Linked DNA regions of Homo sapiens. The protein of the gene in region 3 interacts with the protein of the main gene of each other region in a pairwise test. Each region holds a gene or a part of one and is shown on either strand. Other genes may lie near its edges.

The links.
Region 1: the proteins of GAD2 (region 3) and TSPAN33 interact in binary tests that used the Homo sapiens proteins (3 or more experiments, as listed by UniProt).
Region 2: the proteins of GAD2 (region 3) and MEST interact in binary tests that used the Homo sapiens proteins (3 or more experiments, as listed by UniProt).

The regions. Positions count from the first base shown.
Region 1 is NC_000007.14:129,143,131-129,146,875, reverse strand, and holds the start of TSPAN33 (tetraspanin-33), read right to left. Parts: upstream 2,170-3,745; 5' UTR 1,896-2,169; coding exon 1,794-1,895; intron 1-1,793. UniProt on the Homo sapiens protein: Part of TspanC8 subgroup, composed of 6 members that interact with the transmembrane metalloprotease ADAM10.
Region 2 is NC_000007.14:130,490,257-130,494,001, reverse strand, and holds the start of MEST (mesoderm-specific transcript homolog protein), read right to left. Parts: upstream 1,918-3,745; 5' UTR 1,689-1,917; coding exon 1,663-1,688; intron 801-1,662; exon of another isoform or gene 739-800; intron 1-738.
Region 3 is NC_000010.11:26,214,392-26,218,136, reverse strand, and holds the start of GAD2 (glutamate decarboxylase 2), read right to left. Parts: upstream 1,364-3,745; 5' UTR 1,328-1,363; coding exon 1,252-1,327; intron 528-1,251; coding exon 468-527; intron 296-467; coding exon 146-295; intron 1-145. UniProt on the Homo sapiens protein: Catalyzes the production of GABA.

The DNA.
Region 1 (3,745 bases), on a different chromosome or scaffold from region 3:
AGGTACCAATGGCTCCAAGGGAGACAGTCTCGGCAGATAAAGGAAGTCAGAGTGACGACCTAAAGTCCCTGAAATGCTAGTGCTGGCTCCGAGGATGTCACGTCACTGGCCTGGCACACTCAGTGAGCACAGAGACTTCACTGATACTTGCCCCTAAGTGGGGAGTCTCTTAGTACATCCCCCAGCACTGGTAGAGTGGTAAGGGATTTTCTTGTGTTTTTCCCTAACCTCCAGCTGAAGCAGAACCTAGACTATGGGAACTTGGGTTGACTGGTTAACTACTAATACTGCCCATACCCCAGCTATAGCAGCAGCCATCTGTGCTGAGGACTTCCCCCAGCGGCACTGTGGTTCAGTAGAAAGGTCACCAGACCAAGCCTGCTAACCAGCTGTTGGACCTTGGACAAAACATTTAACATCTCTGTGCTTTAGTTTTCTACATTTTATAGACATAAACACAGATGCTGGACAAGATGTCTTCTAAAATTTTTTTCCAGTTTTACAACTGAGCATTTGATAGGAGCACAAGTTTCATTTTCCCCAGGAGTAGGATGGCTGAGTGCGCTGTCATCACCACCCTATGGGATTTCTCTCATTTGTCCCAACAGGCCAGCACTTATGGGCTTTGTGTCTGCACCTCACCCCACGGGCCCTGTGAAACCTTTCCAGCAAATGGCTTAGATGTCTGTTCTGCTCCCTCCCCTAGGAAACATATTTTAGACTCAATTCTTCCCTCCTGCAAGTCTGAACTTTAGGTCTCCAGCTGAAGTGGGCAAGGATGGTGGGCTCCAGAAGCAGCAGCTCTGGTGTGGTAGGAGCCAGAAGAGGAGGTGAATGGGGGAAGGATGTCCCTATGTTCTCACACCCCAGGACCTCCAGGACTCTCTAGCCAGGAAACAGGGTCGAGCTGGCATTGCATGATCTGGTTCAGCTCAATTCTCAGCTTCAGCAGTCTTTCTGCCACCCCTGATCACACTGGGTTGGATTTGTGGGGGAGGGAGTCAAGGCCTGCAGACATGAACATACATGCTTAGGTCGGTCAAGTCAACAATGAACGGCAGAGTGGGATGGGAATCCAGGTGTCCGGAGTCCCAGCCCAATACTTTTTCCACCCCAAGCAGAAGATTCTGAAAGGACCCCTGGCCCTCCGGCCCAACACGGGGTCCTGTTTAAAGACACTGGTGATTGCCAGGCTCCAGGGGTGAAGTCTGGTCCTGAGAAGGGTGGCAGGGAGGGGACAAAGTTTGGGGCAGTGCTGGGATGGGAAAGACATCTGCACCTGGAGGCCATTCTTCCTAGACTTTGGGGGGGTGGAGGTGGGGGTAGATGAGGCCTGCAAAAGGAAGAGATGATGCCAGTAACCCATCCTCTCTGAGGTGGTGGAGAGAGAGGTTTGGGTTTTTCCTTCCTCTTCTTTCTTTGCCAGCCGGGCCTCCAGGCCCCCAGGCCTGAAAGTCAGCCGCCACCCCCGACCCCCATCATGAATGTGTCAGTGGGTCCGCCTTGGGCCAACAGGCTCCCTCAAACCCACATTTCTAGCCTAACACAGACCCTCCTCCGACGCCCCGAGAATACCCATCAGTCTTTACTGATTCCCTGGCATACCCTCCTCCCTACAACGCCCCCTGCAGACGCGGCGTCCCCGGGGTGTCCCTCCCCAGGATAAATTCCCCCAAAGTGCCGTCAGCCCAGAAAACTCGGCAGTGCGGCTCCCGCGCGTGGGGCACCCCGGGCCACCCTTCCACCCCGCGGGGGGACCCCGCCGCCCAGGTGCCCTCGACCCCGAGACTCACCCAGAAGAGCATGTTGAAGAAGAAGAGCAGGTATTTCACCAGCGGGCTGACGAAGGAGAACTCCTCCCCGGAGGCGGCCGGCGCCCGGGGTCTCCGCGCCATGGCCCCGCCGCCGCCACCGCCCCCGGGGGCCTATTTCCCAGCGGCTGCCGGCCGGCCTGTGTGCCCCGCGCCCGGGGGCATGAGCCGAGCCGCGCCGCGCAGGAGCCCGGCCGGCGGGGGAGCCTGCGCTGCGGCGGGAGGCGCCCGAGCCGGGGGGCCGGGAGCGGCGCGGGCCGGGGAACCGCGCCTGGAGCTGCTGGAGCCGCGGTGGGCAGCGCGAGCGGACGAGACTCACCCGCGGCCGCAGGACCAGCCCGGCCAGCCAGGCGCCCAGGAAACCCGGCCCGCCCCCGGCCGCTCATTGGCGCGACGGCTGGAGCCCGACTTCCCATTGGCTCGTGGCTGATGTCACTAAGTATCCAGCCATCCCTCTCCACCGAGAGTCGGGGGAGACACCTGTTCTGTGAGGGATAACTTGTTAAAGGGTCAGCGGTTCTGCCTCTCCCCTACCCCTAAGGGAAAGCATCCAGGCTGCAGCTGCTCAAAGGAACAAGAGTGAGGAGAAGGAATGCACAGTGCATCCCACACCCACGTCCTCCGCCCAGCTGCTGTGCACATATGCAAACACACATACATTAAAATCAACAAGTACGCACACCGTGTGTTGAGCAATGCGCCGAAAGCTCTGGGAACGCGGGAGAACAGAAACAATCCCTGGGGGATGACAATAAAATCAGGGAGACAAAACTAACCTACACATAACAATTAGACCAAGGGTAGATGCAATCTTGTTTAGTAACTATACATTTTAAATGCTTATTTCAGAAGCTCTACAACCCAACAGTGGAAATTTGGAAACATCACCGCCAATCCCGCCATCCTAATTCATTGCTGTCTCAATTCCCGCCCCCGCAGCCCCTCTTCCCTTGGTCTACTTGCAGACACCGTTTTTAACATGCTGATCCGGCACACACAGGTTGAGTGCAGCGTAGCTGGCGAATATATTATGCTGGCTACCCTAACTAATACAAGTTGAACCTCGGGGAGGGAATCTGATTCCACCATAATTAGCTGCGTGAAAGCTGCAAGCTACTTAATCTCTCGGAGCCTCAGTTTGTTTAATGTTAAATGGGAGAGTCCTGACCTAGATGGCGATTTGAGGATTAAATGAGATAATGCATGTAGCTCACTTAGCACATGGCTGGCACATGGAAGGCTCATCAAAGGCATTACAGTATTTCGTTTTAGCAGAATTAAGAATCCAGTGTGGAAATATGATAACCGCACAAATAATTATAATACGTTTGGTAGAAGGTTAGTGAAGATAGCGTGGCAAGTGAAATTAGGGGAGGATGGGATTTAGAATAGTAGAGACGGAGGGGAAACATAATCCAGGTGGATTAAAAAAAAAGGGGGTGAACCAAAGCCTGGAGGTGCAAAAGCACGCCATGTGTTTCGTGCAAAATAAGCAGACTGCTGTGGCTGGAGCACAGGGTATGCTTGGAATAGCAGTGGGACATAATGCTGACCGATGCCGTTACATGTGGAATTGTGTTAAAACTGCGGAAGTAATTGAATATCAGATTGGGGAGTTAGTGCTTAATTGACTTGGAAATAAGAGTTTTGGAGAAAAGGATGATGGAAAACCCATGGTTTTCAGTTGGAGTGGGAAAGAGGCTGGAGAGAGAAAGATTTGTTAGAAGCATGCTGCTCATCATCCAGATAATCAGAAATCAGGAACTGATTTAGGAGTAATAGACAGAATAATAGATGGTTAGGAGAGGATAGAAGGGAAGGCATTGGAAAGATAGAATCTCTAGGGCTAGGCTGTGGTGACAAGCAGGCATAACAGGAGCACCAAGAGTGGAGGTTAAAGAAGGCAGTCACAGCCAGGTTACTGGGAGATTACT
Region 2 (3,745 bases), on a different chromosome or scaffold from region 3:
CGGATAGAACCATTTGGTCCTACTTCTCAAGGTAATACTAGAAATGGTTCAAAAAAGTGCCAGAACATGATGGTTATATCACAGTTTTCACCCAACAATAGCAGGCTGTATCCCAGTATCTCCTTGAAAGGTCAGATGACAAAAACCATTAGGTTTTGACGATCATTTGCCCAGCCCTATCTGTCCTGTACTTCAATGTATACATTTTCATGTGCAGATTTCATTACTCCTTTCCCCCAGTGCTTCTCATCGCATTCATCCCCGGGGTTCCAGCAGCTGAATCTCTGCAGTGACTCAGCAGAGAGCCCCGGGAGGGGCGGCCAGAGCGGCAAATGGGGAGGCTTCCCCGCCGCTGCTCAGGGAAAGTGGGGGGTTAAAAAACGAGGCTATCGACCAACATACTCCACTCCTGGACACCCCCCTCCACACCCTCCTCCTCTTACTCCAAGAAAGCAAAGAGGCAACCTCTCAGGGGGCCATTTTTTGTCTTATTACCTCAGTAAAAATGCCCCCATGAACTTTTAGGATTTTTAGAAGTGAAGCAACCTAGCCGTCAGTAGGCAAAATGGGTTAAGCAAACATTTTTTGGCCAAAATCCCAACTATTTGATGAGCCATGAGCGGAGACAATAAGCAAACTCCAGTAACAAACTTTCCAAAAATTTCTGAGCCTTGATTTCTTCATCTTGTAAACAGAAAAACACACTCCCGTAATAATACCACCCAACCTGCCGCCCACCTGATGGCGTCGCCGCGAGACGAACCACTTTGAAAACCCGCGAAACCAAGGTGAACAATCCCTGCGCAACATGACAGTTTGGTCACATCGCCGTTCTCACTCGCGCTTGTTACTGAAATCTGAAAAATACTTAAGGCGGCTGACGGGCACTGCGAGTTCTAGTCACTGCGGTGACTCCCGCCACCGTGATACCTGGGTCTTGAAATCCTAAGCTGCACCGCGGCGATCTCGGCACTGCGATTATCCCGTTCTTGAAATCCTAAGGTGCGCCACGGAGACACCGGGGTTCTAAAAATCCTACATCGCACCAGGGCGATGCTGGGGCCTATCCTTTAAGTCGCACCAGAGCGATGCTGGGGTTCTAAAAATCCTACATCGCACCAGGGCTTTGCCGGGATCTATAAATCCTAAATCGCGCCACGGCAACGGCGGAGTCTAAGAATCCTGAATCGCACCAGAGGGAAGCCGGAGTCTAAATATCCTAAATCAAACCAGGGCGATGCTGGGGGTTAGAAATCCTAAATCATGCTGCAGCAATGACTGAGTATAAAAATCCTAAATCGCACCAGGGTGATGCCAGGATCTAAAAATCCCAATTCGCATCAGGGTGAGACCAGGGTCATTATGGATCCTAAGTCATATCAAGATGACGCTGGGGTCCAGAAATCCTAAATCTCACCACGACGATCCCGGGGTCTAGAAATCCTAACCCAAGGAGGTCCCGCGTTCTGAACATTCCATTGCGGGCAGGAGTGACACCCCCTCCTCAAGTAGGCAGAGCGGGCGCGGAATGCGTGCCGCCTGTCGGTAGAGTTTTCGCCCAGAGGCAGCCCCAGCTCGGACACGGGCACACAGTCCTCCGCTCGCCTGCGCCCTAGTCCCAGGGCCGCCAGCCACACCCCCTCGTTCCCACCGCACACTCACCTGCGGAGGCGATCTCGGCGCACCATGGCCGCGTTATCCCATGCCGCCCGCCGCAGCGTTGCAGAGCACCGGGCGCCGCAGAGCCCGCAGCCGTGCAGAGCTGGCCAGCAGCGGGGGCGCAGCCCGCAGCCCACAGCCCGCGCAGGGCGGCGCCGCGCCGGGCAGCTACAGCCACTCCGGCGTGCGCTGCGGCACTGCGCTTGCGAGGCGCAGCTGCCGCAGAGGAGGTGCCGGGGTGTGCTGGTTGCCGCGGCAGCGCGGAGCGAGTGGGCACCGACTTTTAGAGCCCACCCGCGCCCCGCCCCTAGCCCGCCCATCGCCGCAGAACCCCTACCGCCTGCTCCCTTGCTCGCCGCAGAGCCCCTCCCAGCCGCTCTACCACCGCCATGGCCACAAAGATGGGGTGCCCCTCTAACAGTGGCTCCTTTAGGGGGCACCTTCAGGGGTGTCGAGCCCCCTCCCCAAGACCCCGCTGCTCCCTCGTTAACCGCCAACCCTGAGCCCGAGATTCTGCTGCAGAAACCCTCCCCTGATGAGTTAAGGCCACGGGCAAAAACAGCAGACCCCTGAGTGCCCCAACTCTTTCCTTAGACCACCCACAAACCCCACAGGCCGCCCACAAACCCCACAGGCTGCCCACAAGCCCCACAGGAGGATGGCCGCTCGAACTAAGGGGCAGCAGGGCTCTGGGGTGCCGGCCGTGGCGCCTGCTCCCATCCCTCGTTCGAAGCGTGGGTACTGAACCGTGAGAGGTGGCGAGCCACGAGGGCCCTATGCGCCCTAAGCTTAACTACCGGTAACCACCAAGGGCACGAGCAAGCGGCTAGGGAGCAACAAGCTCTGTTGGACCCACCACCAAGCTAGTAAACAGATTCATGGGATGGCCACTATGGCCAAAGTTGCACAAAGTCCGGTTTCTCCCGCTCCAGCCACCGCCGCTGCGCGGGGCAGGTTTCCTTTACAGCAGCGCGACGTGGTCAGCATGCCAGACGCCTGGCCACAGCAGCGCCCTCGCAGCCCCGCTCGCTGCATGCGCCGGTCCGCGCTGCACAGAACAGTGGGCACAATTAGGAGAGCAAAGCCCCCTTTATTTACGTAAGATAGAATCACAATGCAAGGGCCCAGAGGCACAAGAAAGAGGGAGGAATTTTTCTAATCCATAATCCTTTAAAAGGCATCCCTTACGCCTTTGAAAAGTGTAGAGTATCACGAAGTGTCTGTGTTCATTTTCTGACCGTAAACTGAAATACTGGTGAACAAACGTGGGGTGCGAGCGGGTGAGCGGGGCGGCCGGCCGGTGCCCGCTGCATCCAGAGGGGGCGCTGCAGGCCTCCCTTCGGCTGCGCACGGCCCGGGCCCTCCGCGGCTCTGCAACTCTGCACCCCGAAAGGTTCGGTGCTGGACCGCGGGGCATCCAACCCGGGACCGGGGGCGACCCACGGACACTGAGGAAACTACCGCCTATAAGCCTATCATCAGAACCTCTGGCACAACACAGGTACACTTCTGCAGGGGTCTGGTTGCCCCCAGAAAAAGCACTCATGAAACAAATGCTGATTTAGCACCTACAGGGCACTAAGAACCGGGGGTGCGAAATAAATGAGAAATAGCCCCGGCCCGAAAACAACACACGGGCCATCTGGAGGGGAAGACAGACAAGAACTGCCACTTTGTAAAATTTTCCTTTTAATTTCCTAGCGACGTTTGTGGCAGTTGACCCACTCCTCCCTAACGTGTAAGGCCCTCAGAGGCAGAGCCCAAGTATTATTCACCTTTTGTAGCCCCAGAGCCCGCCACGGTGCCGGCCACAAAGCTGGCCCCTAATAAATACTGCTTGAATGAGTACAAGAATTTGAGGGCGCACAGGGGAGGAAGTAATTAAGGGGAGGGGCGAAGGGTGGTCTTGAATGATGAATAGACATTTACCAGAGAGACAAAGAACATTCCAGCCGGAGGGGACGGCTTTCGCAAAGCACCGGAGGCTCAGGGCCGCGTGTTTGGGGAAAACGGTTAGTCCTTTGAGCCGGCAAAAAATTAGGATAGCAAGAGAATTTCATCGTAGGGAATTAGGAATTTGTTCTAG
Region 3 (3,745 bases):
TTTTATCTGAAGATTCTGGCAGGTCCCGCCTCCGCTGCCACCTCGACGCCCCTGTCCGGCTCTCAGCGCCGGACCCGCACCGGCCGCGGTGGGCGGGGCAGAGAGAGGGGCAGGGGCGCCCCGGGGCTCCCCGCTGAGTCTTTACCTGTTGCATGGAGAAACGCGTAGTTGACATCCACTTTGGAGCAGCTGCAGGGCTTCTGGTCGCAGGCGCAGGCGGCCTTCCGGGCGGCGGCCCGCGGGGGTTGGCTCCCGCCGCTCTCCGCCGGCTTCTCGGCGTCTCCGTAGAGCAGGGCTGGGTAAGGACACCGAACGCGGGCCTCGTCAATCCTCCGCCGGGCCCGGCTCCCTCGCTCCCGCCTACCCGCAGCCAGGAAACCCCGACTCCGCTGACTGGGATGCGGAGGTGAGAAGACTGCTTGGACCCCGCGGGCCGACCTTGGCCGCCCCGGTCCCTGGGCACTCACCGCACAGTTTGTTTCCGATGCCGCCCGTGAACTTCTGAGCCACTTGGCACCAGGCTCGCGCTGCAAGGAAGAATAGGCAGGCAGACAGCGAGGCAGAAAGAGAACAACAGACGGACGTGTGAAATTTCGTTCTATGTGAAAATCAATCAGTCCGGGGTCCTAGGAGGGGCCGCCTTCCTCCTGGGGGCCGCTCAGGACTCGGTGAGGCCGGCAGGTGCAGAAGGCAAGCGGGAGGCTGGCGGCCCGGGCCAGCCCTCATTTCCTTTATCTGTTTCCCGAGGAGAAGCCCACACCGCTGCCCTTCCAGGTGCCAATCGGCTCAGGCAAATTCCTCTCCCTGCCTACCTTGGACGAGTTTTCCTAAACACTGAAGCTATCCATTTTTTCGCAGACTGTCTTTCTAGATAAAGAAATCTCTCACCTTTCCCATTTTTTTTTTCTATCTTCACGGTCACTCCGTCCCACCCCAGGGTCCAGACACCCGGATCTTAGCAGCGCCCCAGGACCACGGAATTCCATGTCCCCGAGACACCGCGGTCTTTGGGGGGCTCTTCCAACCTTCTGTGGAACGGGCCTGAGACTATTTGGGCGTCTTCCCAGGGTACAAGAGGCTGTAGAGGTCTTGAGCTCTTGGGCCGTCAAGGACTTAGCCCAAAAGCAGGGAGAAGCGCCCGAAGAAGTTTCCTGTTGCAGGTGGAAAAACCTCCTTCGTCTTCTCCGTAGTTCCGCAAACCCCAGACCACCGCAAAACTCGCCCGCCGCAGGCCCCCGTTCTCCTTCCTACCTGTGCCGGGATTCTCGGAATCCCCAGAGCCATCTTCCGACCCGAAAGACCAAAAGCCAGAGCCCGGAGATGCCATCGGCTTTGGAGACTGGAGCAGGTCGCCTGCGAGTGCGAGCTGCGGGCGAGCTGCCTCGGGCTTGGCCCTGCGCGCGCGTGCGTGCCCGTGTGGCGGGAGGAGGGCACCGCGCGGGGACCGGCGGGGCCGAGCGGCGAGGGCGGGTGTCACGCAGGAACAGAAAACGTGCGTGTCTGTGCGTGTGTGTATGCGAGCTGGAGACAGGGTTTAGGGACGTGGCAACCCTTTGGAAGCCGGGGAGCTTTAAAAGAGACCGGGACTACCTAAGGGTCCTCGGAGCCCGGACTCAGGAAAGCGCGGAGAGCCCCAGAGCATTTGAGGGAAAGGGAGCCCAGTGGGGATGAATGAGGGGGCGGCGGAGGAAAAAAACACGAGAGAGGGAGGGAGCTGAGTCGTGAGGATGCGAGGCAGACCATGCACGCCAGCTGGAGTCAGAGTGAGGGGGTGGGAGGCGTGCCAGCGCGTCCTCGGGCGAGCCAGAGGCGGGAAGTGCGGGCGGCCGCTGTCCCGGGTGCTGCCACAGCCGCTGCGCGCCAGCGTCAGCGAGGGGCAGACTGGGGAGACCTCGGCGAGGCGGGAAGCGTGGCCCAGAGGAGTTTTCTGTGTGCATCGATTGGGGTTTTGTTTGAGGTCTGGCTCCAGCTGAGGGGAAGGAAGCGGGGTTCCCGCGCCGTTTTCCTCCAAGCAGGTGCTGAGGTCACTGCGACCTCGAGAGCTCGCGCCCCGGGCGGGCATCAGGCGCCGTTCACGAGCCTGGGGAGGGGACGGCGGGGGAAGGGCTCCTACCCGCTGATGGGCTCATTTCAGCGCCTTGGTAGAACCTGACGCCTGCCTGCTGAACCGCGCCGTACCCGGGGGCGCACCGTTCCTGCGTAGCCAAGGGCTAGATCGCGGGACCCACCGTCCAGGCTCTGAGTGACGGCTGGGGAGAATGACTGCTGATTGAGGCAATTAAAATCCACGCTGGAGTCTACTGAGGACCTCGGGCTGGGGAAAAAAAAATAAAACGAATGGAAACTTCTTGGAAGAGAATGAGGCAGAGCGGCCAGAGTCGGCAGGATTGATGGCGGGTGGGGGATGGAATCAGGGCATTTGGTGACCTTGGCCCGCGGAGGCGTGGAAGCGCCCGCTGCTTGCGTGTAAGGGGGATCTGTGTGCGCCTGGGAGGGGAGAACAGGGTTTCCAACTAAGCAATCTCGGCTTTACAAATCCGAGTAGGAAAGAAGGCATCGCCTGCAGGGCCCTCGTTTTAAGGGGCTTCAAACCAATGCCCCCCCTCGCCCCCAGAGAATCTTCGCGGTAGCGGGTGACCCGGAAGCGCGAGATTGGTTCTCTCTGAGGCGTATTAGGAGGCGGTTTCTCTTTTTCTAATAAAGAAAGGAGGAGAAAGTCAGAATCGTTCTGATGATTTCCTTTCTACAAAAAGCTATTGCAGACAGGGAGGACGCCCTAAGGATTGGGAGCCCTTTGACAGTTTGCGCTGCGTTCTCCTGGCAGTGGAGATGAACTTCAAGTGCACCTCGGAGCTCCGGGGCTCTGGGGGAGACGGAGGGAGGGAGAGAGAGGAAAGGGCTGAGGTCGGCTTCCCGAGGCGGCTGCCTTCCCCGCGCCTGGCCAGAGCGCCTGTCATTTCCATTGTGTTCACAAGTCGTTTTATTTCTCTGACCTCCTGAACCAGCCACCAAAGCTGCTAACAAAGCAGAGACCCGGGGATCCCGTCTGGGCGAGCACCCCTCGACCCTCGCTTAGAAGGGACATCCTGGGGCCCATGCTGGACGCATACAGGCCCAAGTCCTGTGTGCTCGAGCATAACTGTCCCTGGTCAATTCTCTCCACAAAGCGCTGTCTTCTTCTCGCGTGCCTGAGTCCAGGGGTTCCCTGAGGAGTCATGGGATCCACACTATGGCAACTGGGCCCAGGCGCCAGGATGAGAGCAGGAAACCAGTCGGGCGTTGATAGCGTCCTGCCGAAGGCTGGCACTGAGCGTGCTAGGTGAAGTCTGTTCCAGGCTGTGGGAGCCCGGGTGGTCGAAAACTCAGGGCTCAGTTTGGCTCCTCTTTCTTGCTCTCCTGGCTCTGACACTCTAGGTCACCACAATAACAACTCCGGAAACCTAAAGACTTGTGGTTCAGCCATCTGCACTTCAGGCATGGCAGCTCCGCAGCTCTCTCCAGCCTCGCAGAGGCTGGTTCTTTGTTGAAATCCATATCAAATCCTGCAAAGGTTTTCCTTCAAGCCAGCAGTCTAGGGTTGCAGAACTTTTCTACTATGGATGAGTGGTTGAAAACATAAAGGTTCTTAAAAGCAAGCGTTTAAATCACACAAAACCCCCAAAGAAGAAACGGATTAAAACACCTGAATTTAACTGATTTTTTTTTCTTTTTGGTAAAGCAATGGCTTCAAGTGCTACCGTTTAAA